Linked DNA regions of Homo sapiens. The protein of the gene in region 2 interacts with the protein of the main gene of each other region in a biochemical or structural test. Each region holds a gene or a part of one and is shown on either strand. Other genes may lie near its edges.

The links. The genes of interacting proteins can lie anywhere in the genome.
Region 1: the proteins of DNMT1 (region 2) and RGS6 form a complex in vitro, tested with the Homo sapiens proteins (one study listed by BioGRID).
Region 3: the proteins of DNMT1 (region 2) and PCLAF interact in a test that uses a peptide from one of them, tested with the Homo sapiens proteins (one study listed by BioGRID).

The regions. Positions count from the first base shown.
Region 1 is NC_000014.9:72,558,429-72,565,451, forward strand, and holds part of RGS6 (regulator of G-protein signaling 6), read left to right. Parts: intron 1-3,988; coding exon 3,989-4,039; coding exon of another isoform or gene 4,040-4,161; 3' UTR 4,162-4,286; coding exon of another isoform or gene 4,287-4,599; 3' UTR 4,600-7,023. UniProt on the Homo sapiens protein: Regulates G protein-coupled receptor signaling cascades. Inhibits signal transduction by increasing the GTPase activity of G protein alpha subunits, thereby driving them into their inactive GDP-bound form. The RGS6/GNB5 dimer enhances GNAO1 GTPase activity.
Region 2 is NC_000019.10:10,191,939-10,199,151, reverse strand, and holds the start of DNMT1 (DNA (cytosine-5)-methyltransferase 1), read left to right. Parts: upstream 1-4,198; 5' UTR 4,199-4,252; coding exon 4,253-4,332; intron 4,333-7,213. UniProt on the Homo sapiens protein: Methylates CpG residues. Preferentially methylates hemimethylated DNA. Associates with DNA replication sites in S phase maintaining the methylation pattern in the newly synthesized strand, that is essential for epigenetic inheritance.
Region 3 is NC_000015.10:64,371,419-64,378,441, forward strand, and holds part of PCLAF (PCNA-associated factor), read right to left. Parts: intron 5,488-7,023; coding exon 5,325-5,487; intron 1-5,324. UniProt on the Homo sapiens protein: PCNA-binding protein that acts as a regulator of DNA repair during DNA replication.

The DNA of each region.
Region 1 (7,023 bases), on a different chromosome or scaffold from region 2:
CTCCCAGGTAAGTAAGTGGCAAAAGCTCTTGGTAACCCAGATAGTGCATGCTTTGTTGATTAATATGTGGAAGTGCAATGCACAGAGCCACAGCATGTCAAGCAGCATGTTGATTTTTCTCACTGCACAAAAGGGGGCTATTCCTTTTGTGTGTTTCCTTTCAGAAAACAAAGGATTCCATGACCACCTTCTTCCAGGCTCCTAGCCATCAAGATGGCCACAGAGCTGAAATGATTAATCAGAGCGGAGGGTGGGAATTGAATGTGTGGGTGTTAGTGAACCCAGCACTGAGCCCATGGTCCATGAAATTGAAGGATCCCAAATTCTACTGGATTACACTTTGCCAAATGTCTCAAAGGTGAAAAGCACTTTGTCGGTATGCAAAGCTTTGGTGTCTCTGGAATGTACCTTCTGCAGCTCAGTTCTTAATCACTGTATATTTTTTCACTTGGACAAAGGCTGCCTGCTAATAGCATTTTCAACCATCCTCAGCTGCTTCGCTCAGCTACGCCAAGGCCTCGGGCTGAGCTGGCTGCGGTTTCCTGGCACCATGATCCATTCCCAACTGACCAACACTGAGGAACATTACACACTCACACCCTGAAAAAAACCTGCTTCCTCTGTAACTATGCAAATGCCAGACACAGGCAGGCAGAATTACCATTCCCCTTCTGAAGTGGTTCCTTCAGGATCATCCAAACTGGAGACAGAGATGAGAGTAAAGAGACGGGGCAGTGCCCTGGAGGGTACAGGCAGGAGCTCCCCTCTCTCTGGGCACAGCGGATTCCTCGGGAGCTTCCTGCAAGCCTATAGGGGCATGCACTTTGGGGCAGCTCATCTCTGAACACAGGTAGCCTCTACTATCAGATTTCACTTTGATCACTGAAAACTACAGGAGTCTCAGCTCTTCAGAAGGGAAGCAGCTGCTGAGCAAGTGTGATTGCAGTATTTCTTCCCCAAAGCCCCGGGCCAGGCATCTACCCATGCCCGCATCCTGCATGATTAACCGCCTTCCAGTCTGAGCCTGCCCTCACTCACGCGGGAGGTCACTGGGTAGCGAGTAGATTGCAGCTGGGCTGAGCTGCCTCTCAAGCCGACCTGAACCCTCATGACCTCCATCTTTAGCAGCAAGCTGGCATTTGGTAAATGCGCGAAAGCAGGAGTGGGGAGAGGGAGACAAAAATGCCAAGCAGCACCGCCTGGGTTGCTGAGAGGTTGGGAACAATCCCAAGGGTGGCCCCTAAGCTGGTCAGCTGCACCATCCTACCCTGAAATCCTGGGAAATAAAAGCAGTCGGGGGAAGCGAGGAGCGGGCAGTGACAGGCTGGCCACAGGTCCTTGGAGTCAGAGCGGTGAGGCTGAGCTCCAGGATTTAGTCAGGAAGAGAATAATTAGCACCTTCAAGCCCAGCCCAGCCCAGCCCATTCTGTAGAAAGGGGAAGGGTTGAGGGTATGGAAGCCTCAGGGCCAAATTCACCTAAAACAAATAGACACATAATCCTCCAGAAATAGAATCTCCAACCTCCCTCAACCCACAGTCCCCTCTCCAGCCAAAATAACCTTGTTAATAGGAATGAGGCTGCAGTGAAGGTTTGGGCAACTGGTAAACCTCACCTCCTTTGTCTCTGGGCTTTGAATGTACTCATTGGCAACAGACTCTTATTCAGAAGCTTGAGTGATTTTTTTTTTCCCATCCACCAGCTAAATGAGAGCCCCAAACGCTGTGGATAGCAAACTCAGAACATATATATTTGGGTACATAATGTGTGATTTGTGGCCCTGGCGAAGGAGGGATGGGAGGAGGAGGAGGACCTGATATTGGTGTGTGGTGGTTATCACAGCAATAAGTGGCACCTAAAAGGAGAGCAAACTTCCTTTGTGCCTTTCATAGGACAGGGATGGACATAGGTAACCGGGGGTAGGGGAGGTTTGTAAGAGCTCTCACACAAGGAGGCCCCTAGGCTCAGCAGCCCCGTGTTTCCCCAGCAAGGATGCCCCACACCCCCATGTTTCCTGCCTTCAGGCCTGCCCCAGGAAGGCACATTCCCGAGTGACAAATGCCTCACACTCTATGTAAGAAAGGGCACTCAAGGAGAGTCACCGCTGGGTGTGTGCCACAGAACCCGGGGCTGGGGGGAGCCCTTGAAGGTCAGCCTCTGCCTTCTAAGAGCTATTGTTGTACCTAACCTGGTCTAGACAAAGGAGTAGTCATTCTTAGTGATTTTCAAAGACTGACACCATAACCCTCTTGGATTTTTTAAAAATCTGATTAAAAACTCCTTAGCCAAGTATAAATGTATCCTGCTGCAGGCTAAGTTTAGTGCACTTGAAGATTCAGATAAGGTTGCTGATGGGGTGATTTTGTGGACGTGTGTGTGTGTGTGTGTGTGTGTGTGTGTGTGTGTGTGTGTTTAAGATGGGGAGAAAAAATGAAAAGTTTTGTCTCACTAGTGAAAATGGGGAGTGAAAGCAATGGGGAGGAAAAAGGTCAAGGAGAGGTAGGGAAAGGCAGACTTTCTGACAGCTCCTGAGGGCAATTTCATTTTTGGACAAACTCCCATCTATAGCACCAGAATTCTCAAAGTCAGGCTGGCCATGCCTCTCCATGGAGATCTAAGCCAGATGCCACATTGTCCTGTATCCAGCAAATCCACAGCCCGTGTTGTTTATTAGATAAACCCGTTATCCATCAATTCATCAATCAGCAGGTTTATTGAGGACCCTACCAGGCTTCACAAACCTGATCAATTTTTTAAATTACATCTAGCTTACACGCAGCCAAGCCCAGTAAACAAGACGAGCCCTCACACCCCACTTGGAAATGAACATGAGGAATCGCTGGCCCTTGCAATCTCACGGCCAAACACTGCAGCCCCATGCTGACGAGCTATCACGTGCTGCCCTTCACAGATGGCGGTGGTGTCGCTGACCCACTGTCAATAATATGGGTTTGGAGTGCTTTCCCAGACACAGTGATCAATCTGCCTGGGTCTAGCCATACTGTCCTCTAAAGCCCTGTGCAATGATGCGGATTTCTAAAGAGGGTGAGCTGGAGAACGGGCACACACTATGTAAGGGCAATAAGCAAAGCGACGGAGCCTCGCTCGTGCCCCTCACCCTCCTCCTGGTGCCCAGTCGCAACTCCCCTCCTAGATCAGGGGCTTCTCCGCCATCTCTCCAGGGCACATACACAACGGGACTCTCCTGGCACCTCTATGGCTGATGCACCAGGCCTCATGATCCAGTTCACTGTTTTAGTTTTTGAGAAGAACTGCCACATGGGTTATAGTTGAAGGGCTTGTAGGCTTTCCTGGTATGGGGTCATCAAACTCTGCCTCTGGGTGCCACAGATGGGAAGCCAAGAACATAGGAGACAGCAGGAGTGCACTGCCCTGGGGCCTACAGTGGCTCTGAGCCCCAGCAAATGCCCCCCACTTTCATGGTCCCAGAACTGGTCATCAAGAGGACTCAAGGTCTTTGTGTCTACCCTGCATTCCAAACAGGACTCTGCCTTCTTAAGACTAGTTCATTCATTAGCTTCTGATCAGCCAGATCCTTGGCCACCCTCTATTTGAGTCAAGCCCCCGTCCCTGATCTCAGAACACCCCAAGTCCACCTTTTCCTCCCCCACGTGAACAAAATCAATTTCAGGGCAGCCCGCCGGCATTAAAAATTGCTCTACCTAAAGGTTTAAATACCTGGTTTTTGGTAAGTAAAATTCCCATACCACAAAAAGAGTACCAACAACACACCCTCATAAGGGGACCCTCCAGGACTCCCTGAACCTTCCCTGGAGCCCTGGTTTCTCCAGCTGTCCAAAGTTAAGGCTCCCATACACCTAGAGATCAAATATCAAGATGGTCAGTTGGGTTGGTTGGTCGTTTGGCCTACATGGCTCATGCAACAATTAATTCACCTGTCTGGCTCTCTGTCTCTGTCCCTCTGTGTGTGCGCCTGTGCGTGCCTCTCTGTCGCTGTCTCTCTGCAGGGAAAGTCGCTGGCGGGCAAGCGCCTCACGGGCCTGATGCAGTCCTCCTGACCGTTCCTACCGCAGGTCCAGGGCCTGGGCCCGCGGACCCCACAGGCAGGCGGCGGCGCTCCACATCTGCGGACAGAGTTTCCTTACGAGGAGACTTGGTCACTGTGAAGGAGAAAGAGTGAGGGCAATGAAGGGCGATGGTGGGGAGACTCGGTGGGTGAATGGGGAGACCAGAAAGAAAGAGTCCACAGAGCCTGGGCTGGGCCCGGTGGAGGCTCCTGTTTACAGCCCTCTCTTCTTTGTACAGTTGTATTCCAACACTCCACTCGCTAAGAGGCCCTGATCCCAGCTCATTCAGGGGAGAACACGTCGTGGGGTTCCTGTCACGACTATCACTTGAGATTATATTATTATCCTCACTCCCTCGCTGTCTGGAGACGGTCACACCTTCTGGCAAATTCAAGAGGCATGAGTGGACCGAGAGCACATCCAGCATTTGCATCACCTCCCTGGCACCTCCCATAGTTACAGCCACTACATCCCCACCGCCGCCTGTCATCCCTCACGTCTCTGTGGCCACCCGGGTGTCACTGCCAGCACCAGGCACTGCTTTCACGTAAAATGTCCAAATCACATCTTCAGCAAGAAAGCAACCTCACGGATTGCCCCGCCTCAAGGTCTTTCCACCCTCTTTGAGATCAGCGTTCGGAGAGGTCCCCGCCAGCCCGGTGGCTGCCCTCAGGTCCCGTCACATGTCTCAAGGGTCCAGCGTTCGAGGAAGCACTGTTGTAGATGACAGAGCTTTTTGTTTCACAGCTGCGGGGATTCTGCTGACCATCTTTTAGAAAATTATTTCATAATTTATTCTGGCTTTGCCCCCTTGCTCCTTGGTTTATTCCCTCATGTTTTACTCAAAATAAACATGGCCATGAACTCAGGGGCCATTGGGATTCTCCCCTCTGGCAGCCCCAGGTGGGAGCTGGGAGGGTCCCCAGCCCAGGAGGTGGCTGGATTGCAGGGCTGGCAGCCCCCACGTGGTGGCATCCTGACAGGCACAGTGAGACCCTTGCTGGGTCAGGTCTCCTTTGTGTGTGAAGCTGGGGCAGAGTATGCTACGAAGGGACCAGGCCAGGCCACAGGGCTCTCCTCCCAGTCTTTATCTGAAGGCCCAGCCAAAGCACCCCTCTAAACCGGTCACCTAGGGGAAATGCAAAAACCTGCAAAAGATCCACCTGTATTCCCTGTGTGTGTGTGTCAAAATGACCATTTGCCAACCTGGCTGTGAGGTAATGTATGTAAAGCACCGAGTCAGGTGCCTGATACGCAGTAGGTGCTTAGCAAACGGTAGCTAATACTATCATCATTGTCATTGTTATTGTGACACCCATGAGCCCACAGACAGAGCTGTATTAAGTAACCTGTTTTGAATCCAGACATTCACTCCCCCACTTGCTATGACTACCCTCCTTTGATCTATTTTTGGTCATAGGTAAAAAAAAAAATCTCTCTTGGGAGCATATAAACAAAAAACATAGAAGCAATAAAGCGATCGCTGGTATTTCTTTTCTCATGCAGCCAAATTCGCCAGCTGGTGACCAAAGGCTCAGATGCTTGCTTATTTGCAGACCCGGCCTCCTGGGTGCTCCCCAGTGACCCATCTTTCCACCCCACCACCTCCAAGTCCTGTCTATGTCTGCTTCCACACAGCCCTGTCCCCAGGGCACCAGCCTTCTGTCCCTCACAGCAGTGCCATCGCGGGCATTAGGAGTCTTCGTTATGTTGTATCCTTGTGAGTTCTTGACTACCATGCCCAAGTTTCCCCCACTGGCAATGGTTCCTCTCTTGGAGGTACAGTGGAAACCAGAGAGATGACAGATGTTGAGTCCTCAGTGTCTCAGAGGCAGCAATTCTTGCTGGACACCTGCACATGCTCAGCACAGAGGCTGGTACTTTGGAGGCACTAACCACTTGATGAGTAAATCAATGGCATAAAGCCCCATTCCAAGTTATGGGGTCTTTTGACAGGCCCCTTTCATCCTCTTTCTCTTTGTATAAACCTCATGTTTCAGAACAAAATTACAGTCTAAGTTCATTTGCCCCCAGCCTTGCCCAAGGATCCCCGGGCTGTGCTGACCCCTAGGCATAGGGCAAAGGGTGTTCCCAAGCAGCAGGCACCTCAGTGCCCTCAGTTATCCAGGGCAAGGGGCCTGGCTGCCCCCTGCTCCTCCCCATGATGCAGGGGCTTTCTAAGCCAGGCTGCAGACAGGGCAGGGTTGGCTTCTTGGCCATTCCCTCTGTGCCCCCTTCTCCTTCTGACTGGTCTCACCCTGGAGATCCCCAGAGGATCTGACCAGAGCCAGGTGGACTGTGGCCCTGAGATGGAGCTGGCTGCAGGCTTACAAGCACCTCTGGGGACATCCAGAGGGGAGGGTCAGTAAGCACAACGGAGCTAGGGAGACTTCAGATGGACTCAAACCCAGAGCAATAATACTCTCACACCACCCCACAGCTAAGGCACTCATGTTCCCCAGTAGATCAAGCCAGAAGCTTTGCAAGAAGGGAGTGGAACGAGGCTGCCTATCCAAGGTCCATCTACCACGCAGAACTTGGTCATGCAAGTACATTTGGAAAATCTGGTCTTGGCCCGTCCCCCATTGGCCTGGTCTACACAGCCAAAAATTCAGACTAGATTAGATGTTTGCAGGCAATTCTGTAGCAAAGCAAATTCCCCTACCCCGTCCCTTCCCCCTAGAAGCTGCCTTAGCCTCCCTGACTGGGTGTGGTCTCTGGGCCTAGGACTCCTCCCTATGAGGAAAAGTGCTCTCCAGCCACATCTTGGCAGCCCCACAACCACAGCATCAGGGCAGCTGCAGCAAGTGACCACCCACCCGTCGGGTTAGACACACAAGGCACCAGGCACTGGCATCTGACTAAAATAACCTTTCCCTACATGGGAAGAGGAAAGCTTGTAGGCTGGCACATATAAACGTCCAGCCGCAGCCAGATGGCCTGAACTAAGCAGCAGGAACTCTCTGGGCTGGGGA
Region 2 (7,213 bases):
CATCTTATCAATTTTTCAGTGTACAGTTCAGTATATACACATTGTTGTGCAACAGATCTCTGGAATCATTTTGTAAAACTGAAACTCTTGAACAATAACTCCTTTTCCTCCTTCCCCCCCGGCCTTGGTAACCACTATTCTACTTTCTGTTTCTAAGATTTTGATTACTTTAGATACTTCATAAGTGGAATTGTATGGTATTTGTCTTTGTGTGATTAGGTTCTCTCACTGTGCGTAATGTCCTCAAGGTTCATCCATGTTGTAGCATATAATAAGATATTTTTTCTTTTCTTTTGTTTTTTGGAGACGGAGTTTCACTCTTGTCACCCAGGCTGGAGTGCAATGGTGTGATCTCAGCTCACTGCAACCTCCACCTCTCGGGTTCAAGCAGTACTCTTGCCTTAACCTCCTAAGTAGCTGGGATTACAGGTGCATGCCACCATACCCAGCTAATTTTGTATTTTTACTTTTATATTATTTATTTATTTATTTATTTATTTATTTTGAGATGGAGTTTCCCTCTTGTTGCCCAGGCTGGAGTACAATGGTGTAATCTCAGCTTACCTCAACCTCCACCTCCAGGGTTCAAGCAATTCTCCTGCCTCAGCCTCCGGAGTAGCTGGGGTTATAGGCATGAGCCACTATGTCCAGCTAATTTTGTATTTTTAGTAGAGATGGGGTTTCTCCATGTTGGCCAGGCTGGTCTCGAACTCCTGACCTCAGGTGATCCACCCGCCTTGGCTTCCCAAAGTGTTGGGATTACAGGTGTGAGCCACTGCACCTGGCCATTTTTTCTTTTTTAAAGACTGAATTAGGCTGGGTGCAGTGGCTTACACCTGTAATCCCAGCGCTTTGGGAGGCCAAGGCCAGCAGATCGCTTGAGCTCAGGAGTTTGAGACCAGCCTGGGCAACATGGAGAAATCCTGTCTCTACAAAAAATATAAAAAGTTAGCCCATTGTGGTGGCACATACCTGTAGTCCCAGCTACTTAAGAAGCTGAGGTAGGAGTATGCCTTGAGCCCAGGAGTTTGACACCTGCCTGGGCAACACAGCAAGACCCCATCTCTTAGCAGCAATATGATCTTTTTTTTTTTTTTTCCTGTCTCTTGGCTGTTGTGACTAATGCTGCAATGAAGACGGGTATGCAAATATCTCTTTAAGATCCTCTTTTCAATTCTTTTGAATTTATATCCAGAAATGGGATTGCTGGATCATATGATAATTCTATTTTTAATTTTTTTGAGGAACTTCCATGCTGTTTCTCATAGCAGCTCCACCATTTTATTCGACTCTCAACCGTGCACAAGGGTTCCAGTTTCTCCACATCTTCACCAACACTTATTATTTGACAGTGGCCATTCTAAGGGGTCTTAGGGATATTTCATTGTGGTTTTGATTTGCATTTCCCTGATGACCAGTGATGTTGAGCATCTTTTCATATGCCTGTTTTCTATTTGCATATCTCCTTTGGGAAAGTATGTATTCAAATCATTTGCTCTTTTTGTTTGTTTTTGAGACGGAGTCTCGCTCTGTTGCCCAGGCTGGATGGAGTGCAGTGGTGCAATCTCGGCTTGCTGCAAGCTCCACCTCCTGGGTTCACACCATTCTCCTGCCTCAGCCTCCTGATTAGCTGAGACTACAGGCGACTGCCACCACGCCTGGCTAATTTTTTGTATTTTTAGTAGAGATGGGGTTTCACCACGTTAGCCAGGATGGTCTCGATCTCCTGACCGCGTGATCCGCCTGCCGCCTGGGCCTCCCAAAGTGCTGGGATCACAGGTGTGAGCCACCGCACCCAGCCCATTTGCTCATTTGTAAATCGAGTTTTTGTTGTTGCATTGTAGAAATTTATTATTTTTTAAATTTTTATTTGAGACAGAGTTTCTCTCTTGTTGCGCAGGCTGGAGCGCAATGGTGCAATCTCGGCTCACTGCAACCTCCGCATCCCAGGTTCAAGTGATTCTCCTGCCTCAGCCTTCCGAGTAGCTGGGATTACAGGCACACCACCATGCCCAGCAAATTTTTATATTTTGAGGAGAGACAGGGTTTCACCATGTTGGCCAGGCTGGTCTCAAACTCTTGACCTCAGGTGATCCACCCGCCTTGGCCTCTCAAAGTGCTGGGATTACAGGCGTGAGCCACCAAGCCTGACGGGTAGTAATTTATTTTTTATATAATTTTTTTCTTCTTTTTTTGGTAGAGACGAGGTTTTGCCATGTTGCTCAGGCTGGTCTAAAACTACCGGGCTCAAGTGATCTGCCTACCCGGGCCTCCCAAAGTGCAGGGATCACAAGCATGAACCACCATGCCTGGCTGTAATTTTTCATATATTCCGGATATTAACCCTTTACCAGATAATACAGTTTGCAAACTTTTTTTTTCCCCATTCTGTAGGTTGCCTTTTCACTGTTGGTCATTTCTTTTGCTGTATAGCTATCCTTAAGTTTGTTGCAAACCCATTTGTCTATCTTTTGTCTTGTTGCCTGTGTTTTGCTGTCATATCCAAGAAATCATTGCCAAATCCATTGTCATGAAGCTTTTCCCCATGTTTTCTTCTAGGAGCACTATAGTTTCAGGTCTTATGTTTAATCTTTAATAAGTTTTGTGTTTTTGTATATGGTGTAAGGTAAGGGTCCAACTTCATTCTTTTGTATGTGGTTATACAGTTTTCTCAGCACCATTTGTTAAAGACACAATCTTTCCCCCATGTTCTGGTGCTTTAAAAAAAAAAAAAATTCTGGCTGGTTACGGTGGCTTAGGCCTATAATCCCAGCACTTTGGGAGGCTGAGGCAAGTGGACTGCTTGAGGCTAGGAGTCCCAGACTAGCCTGGCCAACATGGTGAAACCCTGTCTCTACCACCGAAGATACAAAAATTAGCCAGGCGTGGTGGAGTACGCCTGTAATCCCAGCCTACTAGGGAGGCTGAGGCATGAGAATCGCTTGAACCTGGGAGGCAGAGGTTGCAGTGAGCCAAGATCTCACCACTGCACGCCAGCCGGGGTGACAGAGTGAGGCAGGGTCTTACCCTGTCGCCCAGGCAGGAGTCCAGTGGCCCAATCATGGCTCATTGCAGCCTACACTGCCAGGGTTCAAGCCATCCTCCCACCTCAGCCTCCCAAGTAGCTAGGATTACAGGTGTGTGTCACCATGCCCAGCAAATCTTTGTATTTTTTGTAGAGATGGGGTATCCCTATGTTGCTCAGGCTGGTCTTGAACTCCTAACCTCAAGCGATCCTCCCACCTGGGCCTCTCAAAGCACTGGGATTACAGGCGTGAGCCACTGCGCCTGACATGGTGCTTCTTAATTTATTCTTACTTTTTATTTTTATTTTTTTGAGACAAGGTCTTGCTCTGTCTCCCAGGCTGGAATGTAGTGGTACAATCATGGCTCACTGCAACCTCTGCCTCTCCGGTTCAAGTGATCTTCCTGCCTCAACCTCTGGAGTAGTTTGGACTATGGGCACATGCCACAACGACTAGCTAATTTTTGTTTTTCTTTTTTTCTTTCTTTCTTTCTTTCTTTTTTTTTTTTTTTGAGATGCAGTTTCTCTATGTTACCTAGGCTGGTCTAAAACTCCTGGGCTCAAGCGATCCTCCCACCCTGGCCTCCCAAAGTGCTGGGATGACAGGCGTGAGCCACGTGGTGCTTAAAAAAGGCAACAAAAAACCCCCCACACACTGGGTATAGAAGTGGCATGGGCCTCTATACACTGTGAGATTCTTGGTACTAGCTACAAATTCTGTGTATACTCAAGATTTTCTAGAGTAGGTGCAATTACCCCGTTTTACAGATGAGGACACAGAGGCTGAGCCGTAGTGACCCACCTAAGGTCGTATAGCCAGCAAATAGATGGAGGTTGGATTGGAACTGAGGACTTTACTCAAGGGCTCTCACAAACCCTTGGGGGCTTCTCGCTGCTTTATCCCCATCACACCTGAAAGAATGAATGAATGAATGCCTCGGGCACCGTGCCCACCTCCCAGCAAACCGTGGAGCTTGGACGAGCCCACTGCTCCGCGTGGGGGGGGTGTGTGCCCGCCTTGCGCATGCGTGTTCCCTGGGCATGGCCGGCTCCGTTCCATCCTTCTGCACAGGGTATCGCCTCTCTCCGTTTGGTACATCCCCTCCTCCCCCACGCCCGGACTGGGGTGGTAGACGCCGCCTCCGCTCATCGCCCCTCCCCATCGGTTTCCGCGCGAAAAGCCGGGGCGCCTGCGCTGCCGCCGCCGCGTCTGCTGAAGCCTCCGAGATGCCGGCGCGTACCGCCCCAGCCCGGGTGCCCACACTGGCCGTCCCGGCCATCTCGCTGCCCGACGATGTCCGCAGGCGGTAGGTACCATGGGGGGGAACACGGACTCAGGGGGACAGGCAGGGCGCTGGGTGGGGGGTCGCTTCCCCTCGGGGTGGCCGGTGGCCGCTGCTGACAGACGGGCGCGCATGCGTGGGGTGGTGCGGCGCGCAGCGGCAGTTGGCGCGGGCAGGGTGGCACTTCCGGTCGCGCGTGCCCGGGCTGTTTGGCGCCAAAATGGACCGTGGATTCCCCCGTAGCTCCCTGGTGGCTAGAAACTAGGCGGGGTGGGGGTTCTCTTTTGATCCCCAAATACAGCAAGCTTTGGGTTCGTTTCCGGGGTCCCCTTCTTCAAGCAGCGGTGGGCCGGGCTCTTGACTCCAGCTTGGTCGCACAGGAAGTGGGCAGCCCGCGGCCAACGGACACCCCTCGGGCACCGGCACTTCGGCCTCCACTTCCGGTGTCCGGCCCGGTCCCCGGGGGCGCTTCTGTGGTGGGGGGTCCCTCAGTGCCTTTCCCCCAAAGCTGTGCATCTCGATGGCGGCCTCCAGAGACGGATGTCACCCGTCGGGGCCTGGGCTGGGCTGGCTCATGTTCGAGAGCCCAGCCTTCCGTGGGGTACTCATTCTGTCAGTTGGGACTGTGTGGTTCTTGCTCCTTGGGAAAGTCCATGTTTTGGCAGGAACTTTAACCGTGCATTGCAGCGCAGGGCCCGGGAAGCGTGAAGGCTGCATGGTTGGTCTTTTCCTGTAAATCTGTGCCTGTGAGCCGTGGGCATCAGGGAAGTCTTGCTAATGAGAACTGGCTACACTTTCGTGTGTGTTTGTGTGTGTTCATGGGTGTGTTCTTTAGTGTGTGTCTAATGTTGGAGGCCCTGGCTTTAGCAGTTCATGCCTCTGTCCAACTTCCGTGCACAAGGATCAGTGGGAGCACTGGTCCCAGCCCCTTGTTCATGAACGCCATCAGTTCATTCCTGAAAACTTGTTCAAGTGAGGTGTGCGTGAGTCAGAGGAACCCTCACCAGGCGTGGACACTTCCAGCTGGATTTGTGAAAGCACTCTTTGCCATTTTTCTATTTCCTTAGGCTTGTTAACTGACCTGGTTGGGCCAGTCCGGTTCTGATTTGGGTCTTTGGGGAGGGATGGATATTTGGTTCAACCCCCGCTTTTTTTCTTTTCTTTTTTTTTTTTTTTTTGAAGGCTGGGTGCTGTGGCTTATGCCTGTAATCCCAGCAATTTGGGAGGCAGTGGCGGACGAATCTCTTGAGCCAGGAGTTTGAGACCAGCCTGGGCAACAAGGCAAAACCCCATGTCTACTAAAAATACAAAAATTAGCCTGGAGTAGTGCCGTGCGCCTGTGGTCCCAACTACTCAACAGACTAAGGTGGGAGTATCACTTGAGCCCCAGAGGTTGAGGCTGTGTGTAGCGAGCTGAGATCGCGCTATTGCACTCCAGCCTGGGTGACAGAGTGAGACCCTGTCTCAAAAAAAGAAACACTTTTTATTTTTAGAGATGGGTCTCACTCTGTTGTCCAGGCTGGAGTGCCCTGGCACAATTATAACTCACTGTAGCCTTGAACTCCTGGGCTTAAGGGATCCTCAGCCTCCTGAGTAGCTGGGACCACAGGCGCCCACCACCATGCCCAGATGACTTTCTTAGTTTTTGTTTCTGTATACGTGAGGTTTCACCATATTGCCCAGGCTGGTCTTAAACCCCTGCCCTCAAGCAGTCCTCCTGCCTTTGTGTCCCAAAGGTTAGGATTACAAGTATGAGCCATCATGCCTTAACTACTACTTTTTTTTGTTTGTTTGTTTGAGATGGAGTCTCATTCTTTCACCCAGGCTGGAATGCGGTGGCGTGATCTCGGCTCACTGCAACCTCCACTTTCAGGGTTCAAGTGATTCTCCTGCCTCAGCCTCCGAAGTAGCTGGGATTACAGGTGCACACCACCACGCCTGGCTAATTTTTGTGTTTTCAGTGGAGTCGGGGTTTCTCCATGTTGGTCAGGCTGGTCTCGAACTCCTGACCTCGTGATCCACCTGCCTCAGCCTCCCAAAGTGCTGGGATTATAGTCAAACCACTTCTTAACCAGTTAGTGGGTATATATCTTCTTGAATCATCTGTGCCAGTATTCTCCCAAAATAAAACTTGATTTAAAATGGAATGGAAGTGAAATTATGAAAGTGCCTGGCTTCATGATGTTACACCCAATTCAGAGAAGTTTGGGCCCGGCCTTCCTTTTTTATTCCTTTTTTTTATTTTGTAGAGATGGGGTCTTGCCATGTTGCTCAGGCTGGTCTTCGATTCCTGGCCTCAAGCGATCCTCCTGCCTCAGCTTCCCAAAGTGTTGGGATTACGGGTGTGAGCCACCATGCCCAGCCTGCCCAGCCTTCTTGAAAACATGACCTCCACTGGCTCAATGACCTTAAACAAGCGTATGCCACCTCTATATCCATAGTCTAGGAATAATGACATGGGTTTTCAGCTGGTATTGGGTTAAATGAGAATATGCATGGCACATAAAGGTTCACATGCTAGTGGCTAACTTAGCTTGTTTTTTTCAGTTTTTTTTTAAGAGACAGGATCTCACTGTGTCACCCAGGCTGGAATGCAGTGGCACAGTCATGGCTTACTGCAGCCTTGAACCCCTGAGCTCAAGCAATCCTCCTGCCTTAGCCTCCTGAGTGGCTGGCACATGCCACCATGCCCAAGTTAATCCTTAAAAAATTTTTTAGAAGGCTGGGCGCGGTGGCTCACGTCTGTAATCCCAGCACTTTGGGAGGCTGAGATGGGCAGATCACCTGAGGTCAGGAGTTTGAGACCAGCCTGGCCAACGTGGCGAAACCCCATCTCTACTAAAAATACAAAAAAATTAGCCAGGTATGGTGGCAGGTGCCTGTAATCGCAGCTACTCGGGAGGCT
Region 3 (7,023 bases), on a different chromosome or scaffold from region 2:
CCACGCCCAGTTAATATTTGTATTTTTAGTACAGATGGGGTTTCACCATTTTGGCCAGGTTAGTCTCAAACTCCTGACCTCAGGTGATCCGCCGGCCTAGGCCTCCCAAAGTACTGGGAGTACAGGCATGAGCCGCCGTGCCCAGCCCACCGCTTAATTTCAAGATTAATCAAATATGACTTCAAAACAGATCAATTTTTTTTGAGACAGAGTCTCGCTCTGTCACCCAGGCAGGAGTGCAGTGGCGCAATCTTGGCTCACTCCACCTCCTGGGTTCAAGTGATTCTCCTGCCTCAGCCTCCTGAGCAGCTGGCATTACAGGTGTGTGCCACCACACCCAGCTAATTTTTGTATTTTTAGTAGAGACCGAGTTTCACCATGTTCTCCAGGATGGTTTCGAACTCCTGGCCTCTAGTGATCTGCCCACCTTGGCCTCCCAAAGTGCTGGGATTACAGGCATTAGCCACCGCACCTGGCCCAGATCAACTTTTTTTAACCCACCTCCTGCACAAAAAATGGTCAATTTTTAAGTTGTAAAAATTATTCAACATGTACAAAGTCACCTCTTAATTTCAAGATTAATCAAATACGCCTTCAAAGGAAATCAACTTTTAACCCACCTCCTGCACACAAAAAAATCAGTTTTTAAGTTGTGAAAATTATTTGACATACACAAAGATAAAAAGGCACTATTTTAAAATTACTTGAAGTCAATGCACTTCTAATTTTTGGAATCCAGTTAAGTATCGTAACTAAATCTGGCATTCTTGTTGAATTGGAATGGGTGATAGGAAATGCCTACTATTTCACTTTTAAGTGTATATGCAAGAATTAGTCATGCTTGGATTTGGAGTAAATTCCAGTCTATCATTGCTCTGGCACACTTCAATTACCACATAGAAAGTAAAATGCAGGGCTGGGTGCGATGGCTCACACCTGTAATCCCAGCACTTTGGGAGGCCGAGGCGGGTGGATCACAAGGTCAGGAGATCAAGACCATCCTGGCTAACATGGTGAAACCCCGTCTCTACTAAAAATACAAAAAATTAGCCGGGCGTGGCGGCGTGCGCCTGTAGTCCCAGCTGCTGGGGAGGCTGAGGCGGGAGAATGGCATGAACCCAGGAGGCGGAGCTTGCAGTGAGCCGAGATAGCGCCACTGCACCCCAGCCTGGGCGACAGAGCGAGACTCCATCTCAAAAAAAGAAAAGAAAAGAAAAGAAAGTCAAATGCAATGGCAAATCAAATCCAAAGCCCTAAAGAGTTAAGTGCCCTTGGCCAGGCGCAGTGGCTCATGCCTGTAATCCCAGCACTTTGGGAGGCCGAGGCGGGCAGATCACAAGGTCAGGAGATCAAGACCATCCTGGCCAACATGGTGAATCCCATCTCTACTAAAAATACAAAAATTAGCTGGATGTGGTGGCACGTGCCTGTAATCCCAGTTACTCAAGAAAGGCACAAAAATCGCTTGAACCCAGGAGGCGAAGGTTGCAGTGAGCCAAGATAGCACCACTGCACGCCAGCCTGGGCAAGAGTGAGACTCCTTCTCAAAACAAACAAACAAAAGAAACAGAGTTAAGTGCCCAAGAGAAGAGTGAAAACTTAGCAATGTAAATCTAGAGCATATCAGCATTAAATTAGGATGGCTGAAACAATACATAGAATATTTATAGTAACACCTGGTAGTTTCTTCCAATGCACATATATAATAAATAGAATCATGGAAGCTTTTTCTATTACCTAATCATTTTACAGCCTTGTAGATTTAACAAACTAAAATGAAAACTGAATCTCCATTCCATAGCTTGCTAAGTAATTTTTGATGTTCTCTTTCTCCTCTGTCTTATACGTGAAACTCCAACAGATTTAATATTGGCATTTATCATCTAGTCAAATCCTTCAGATGCTCTTTAAACCAGTCCAGTTTGAGACTCTCAAGCGTTTCTCTGTTAATAAGGAGTGAAATTAGTAGATTTGATGAAGACCTGGTTTTTTTCCTTGCCACATTGAACTTCTAGGCACCATTTGGATTCGGTTTTAGTGTATGGGTTGGAGAACTGTAGCTGTTTCTTGACCTGCCTCTTAATGGTAGAGATGTAGAAGGGCAAGCAAGACCACAAGGAGACCGGCTGTAGGCTGTAGGGCACTGTTGGAGGGCTTTGTGGTTTCGGCTGCAGTAGCTTCCGGCATACTGGTTAAAGGAACAAATGAAGAAACCTGCACGGGTAGGAGCAGCGCCAGAAGTAGCAGACCCAGAATGAGCATCGCCACCATCCCCTTACCCATTTGGATCAGTGTGCCGTGTGTCCAGCTTGCTGCTCAGTGTGCTGGAGGATGGGTGGCTCCTGGCTGGTGCAGGGGAGATAGCAAGTAGGGTCTTATATTCAAGGGGCATCATAATGGCAGTGACATCACTCCCTTTCCTCCTACATCCAGACAAGTACTTTGTTTCGAAACAAAACATTTAAGTTGCTTAGAAAGCCTGGACCTTATTAATTACAAATCTATAAAAAGGCAGATTTCGAATCTTTTTTTCCCAAGTGGCGTGATTTTTCCCTTGGTTTTTTTTTCTGTCCCATATGACCTTCAGAAATTTTTCTTGATTCTTAAAAGTGATGCAAATTTTTTGTTAAAAGTTGTTAGCACAGGGTATGAGAAGAGGTTTTTACCCAGAGATAAGTATTATTGATATTTGGTATATTTTCATATAGTACATATACATGTATTTACACAGTAAAGATTGTACTTTTGTATCCAGAATTTTGGGTTAACAATTATTGTGAGCATTTTCCTGTCATTAAAAATGTAAAAGGTATGGTTTCATTAACTTCTTAAAAAGTTTGTGGCCGGGTGTGGTTGCACTCGCCTGTAATCCCAGCACTTTGGGAGGCCGAGGCGGGCAGATCATGAGGTCAGATTGAGACAATCCTGGCTAACACGGTGAAATCCCATCTCTACTAAAAATACAACAAAATTAGCCAGGCGTGGTGGCGGGCGCCTGTAGTCCCAGCTACTTGGGAGGGTGAGGGAGGAGACTGGTGTGAACCCGGGAGGTGGAGGTTGCAGTGAGCCGAGATTGCACCACTGCACTCCAGCCTGGGCAACAGAGCGAAACTCCGTCTCAAAAAAAAAAAAAGTTTGCACACTGGCCAGGTGTGGCAGCTTATGCCTGTAATCCCAGCACAGTGGGAGGCCAAGGCAAGTGGATTACTTGAGCTCCGGAGTTTGAGACCGGCCTAGGCAACGTGGCAAAACCTCATCTCTACCAAAAACACAAAAAATTAGCTGAACTCCATGGCACATGCCTGTAATTCCAGCTACTTGGAAGGCTGAGGTGGGAGAATCAATCGAACCCAGGAGGCAGAGGTTGAAGTGAGCGAACATTGGGCCACTGCATTACAGCCTGGGTGACAGAGTGAGACCCCCATATCAAAAAAAAAAAAAAAAAGGAAGAAAGAAAGAAAAAAAGGAAAAAAGGAATGAGATATTCATGAAATACAACGGATGAAACTCGGAAACTTTTTTTTAAAGGTTGCACACCAAGTTTGGTGTGTGTAGTTTTATCCCTACTTTTTGTTTTTCACTATTCTTACGTACTTACAGAGAAGTTGTAAAGACAATACACCATGGTATTATTCCTAGTTGGTTCTAGGTGATGGGGATTTCTATATTTTCCAACTTTTCCATATTGGTCATATTTTTATTTTTATTTTACTTGATTTTTTTTGAGATGGAGTCTCGCTCTGTCCCCCAGGCTGGAGTGCAGTGGTGCGATCTCAGCTCACTGCAACCAACACCTTTCAGGTTCAAGCAATTCTCCTGCTTCAGCCTCCCGAGTAGCTGAGATTACAGGCACGTGCCACCACGCCCGGCTAATTTTTTGTATTTTTAGTAGAGACGGGGTTTCACCATGTTGCAGGATGGTCTCGATCTCTTGATCTTGTGATCTGCCTGCCTTGGACTCTCAAAGTGCTGGGATTACAGAGGTGAGCCACTGTGCCAGGCCTATTTTTGAGACAGGTCCTCACTCTGCCACCCATGCTGGAGTACAGTGGCGGGATCTCGGCTCACTGCAACCTTCATCTCCCAGGGTCAAGCAATTCTCCCACCTCAGCCTCCCTAGTGGCTGGGATTATAGGCGGCGCCGCCACCCTTTTGGTAGAGAAGGGGTTTCACCATGTTGCCCAGGCTGGTCTGGAACTCCTGAGCTCAAGCGATCTGCCCACTGTAGCCTCCCAAAGTGCTAGGATTACAGGCATGAGCCACCGCACACAGCCTGGTTATATATTTCTTGTGCAAGTTGAACTGGTAGTTTTTTAAGGGACAGGATTAATGGAATTCAAGTTATATAAGCCAACAAGGAAATTGCCTTGTAAGAAAAGCCTAAAGGAAAAAGACAGTAAGAATTAAAGACTCAATACACTAAGTTCATGGTTAATGACATAGCACTTATGTGAATGGGAACTGATCCTCTTTGAGAGATTGGGAAGAGTAAAAAGAATACTTTTTACTAATGTTTGAAATTTGCTGGCTGGATGCAGTGGCTCACGCCTGTAATCCCAGTACTTTGGGAGGCTAAGGTGGGTAGATCACAAAGTCAAGAGTTCAAGACCAGCCTGGCCAACAAGGCAAAACCCTGTCTCTACTAAAAATACAAAAATTAGCTGGGCGTGGTGGCGTGTGCCTGTAATCCCAGCTACTTGGGAGGCTGAGGCAGGAAAATTGCTTGAACCTGGGAGGCGGAGGTTGCAGTGAGCTGAGATAGCGCCACTGCCCTCTAGCCTGGGCAACAGAGCAAGACTCCGTCTCAGGAAAAAAAAAAGAAAAGAAATTTGGGAGTGAGTTATAATAAGAAATTAGAAGAAGTTTTTAAAAACTTTTTTTGCATTTTCTTATGAGCTTGAAGAGAAACTTGACTCAATATCCTATTTGTCCTTTATTTTCAAGATATTTTCTTTATTAATTAATTAATTAATTTTTTATTTGAGACAGAGTCTCACTCTGTCCCCCAGACTGGAGGGCAGTGGCGTGAAAATGAGATACATGTGCATTACATGCAAGTTTGTTATATAGGTATATGTGTGCATGGTGGTTTGCTGCACCAAGCAATTCTTTTGTTTGAGCCTCCCAAATAGCTAGGACAACAGGTGTGCACCAGCACGCCGAGCTAATTTTGTATTTTTAGTAGAGACAGGGTTCCACCATGTTGGACAGGCTGGTTTTGAACTCCTGGCCTCAAGTGATCCTCCCGCCTCGGCCTCCCAAAGTGCTGGGATTACAGGCGTGAGATAAATATTTTCTTTATATTCCAGAATATAAAAACTTACTTTCTCTTTGCTTTTCCTAAGCCACTGCTTCCTGCCTCTTCAGGAATCTGATTCTCTTTTTCAGAATCTTTAGGGGACAACCTAAAGAATTCTCCAATTCCTTTTTGCCACTTGGGAGTTGGGCGCACGCAAACGGGGTTCCCTCCTGCATATTTATTTTCAGCTGTAAAATATAAACAGATGGAACTAGATAAGTGCTAATAATACAATCTCTATTCCTTAAACAACTTAATTCCTTCTTTAACATCAAATTCTCAAAGGTATTAAATAATCTTTATTTAAGATATACAACTTAAAGAATTAGAAAATGTGACACAATAAAGCTGTATTCCACCAATAAACTCAGTGTGATGGTTATCTTAGCAATAACAGTAGTAACAGAATTTTTACAACTGAAAAATATTTTTATATTTTGTCCACAAGCAGAGCTATTCAAATACTCTTGCCGGGTCCAGTGGCTCACGCCTGTAATCCCAGCACTTTGGGAGGCTGAGGAGGGTGGATCACAAGGTCAGGAGTTCGAGACCAACCTGGACAACATGGTGAAACCCCCGTCTCTACTAAAAATACAAAAATTAGCTGGGTGTGGCGGCACGTGCCTGTATTCCCAGCTACTTGGGAGGCTGAGGCAGGAGAATCACTTGAACCAGCGAGTCGGAGGTTGCAGTGAGCCAAGATTGCGCCGCCACTGCACACTCCAGTCTGGCAACAGAGCGAGACTCTGTCTCAAAAAAAAAAAAAAAAAAATATATATATATATATATATATATATATATATATATATATATATATATATTCTTGTATGTACTGACATACTGAAGTTTGACACACTTTTTCCTAACATAAGATAGGACCATGTAGTATAAAGTGCCAACATTTTACTTACTAAGGTCATTTAGTTAAAGCACATATAAGAGGCAATGTGAAAGTCTCCACAAAAGTAGATTCCATTTTTCAAAGCACCTGGCTCCTTTTCAGTTCATAAGAGAAGTCCAATTCCTGGTGTTTTTTTTTTTTTTTTTTTTTTTTTTCAAAGTCTAGCTCTGTCACCCAGGCTGGAGTGCAGTGGCGCAATCTTGGCTTACTGTAACCTCTGCCTCCCGGATTCAAGTGATTCTCCTGCCTCAGCCTCCCGAGTAGCAGGGATTACAGGCGCCCGCCACCACGCCCAGCTAATTTTTGTTTTGTTTTTGTTTTTTTGGGGGGGAGACAGAGTCTCACTCTGTCACCCAGGCTGCAGTGCAGTGGCACGATCTTGGCTCACTGCAAGCTCCGCCTCCCGGGTTCATGCCATTCTCCTGCCTCAGCCTCCCGAGCAGTTGGGACTACAGGCGCCCGCCACCACACCTGGCTAATTTTTTGTACTTTTAGTAGAGACAGGGTTTCACCATGCTAGGATGGTCTCGATCTCCTGACCTCATGATCCGCCCGCCTTGGCCTCCCAAAGTGCTGGGATTACAAGTGTGAGCCACCCTGCCCGGCCAATTCCTGGTTATTTTTCAACAGTAATATAAGGAGAAATTGAGGGAAAATTCTTGCCTTTTTATAAAGTAATGACCAGGAACAAATTATTCAGTTACTGCAAATCTTTTGCTTTAAGCTAAAACATTTGCTTTAACAACTCTAGTTGTTAAAGAATGCTTACAAAAGTTGTTTCCATATAGACTCTGAAGTTATATTGTTTCTACTTATTTATTTA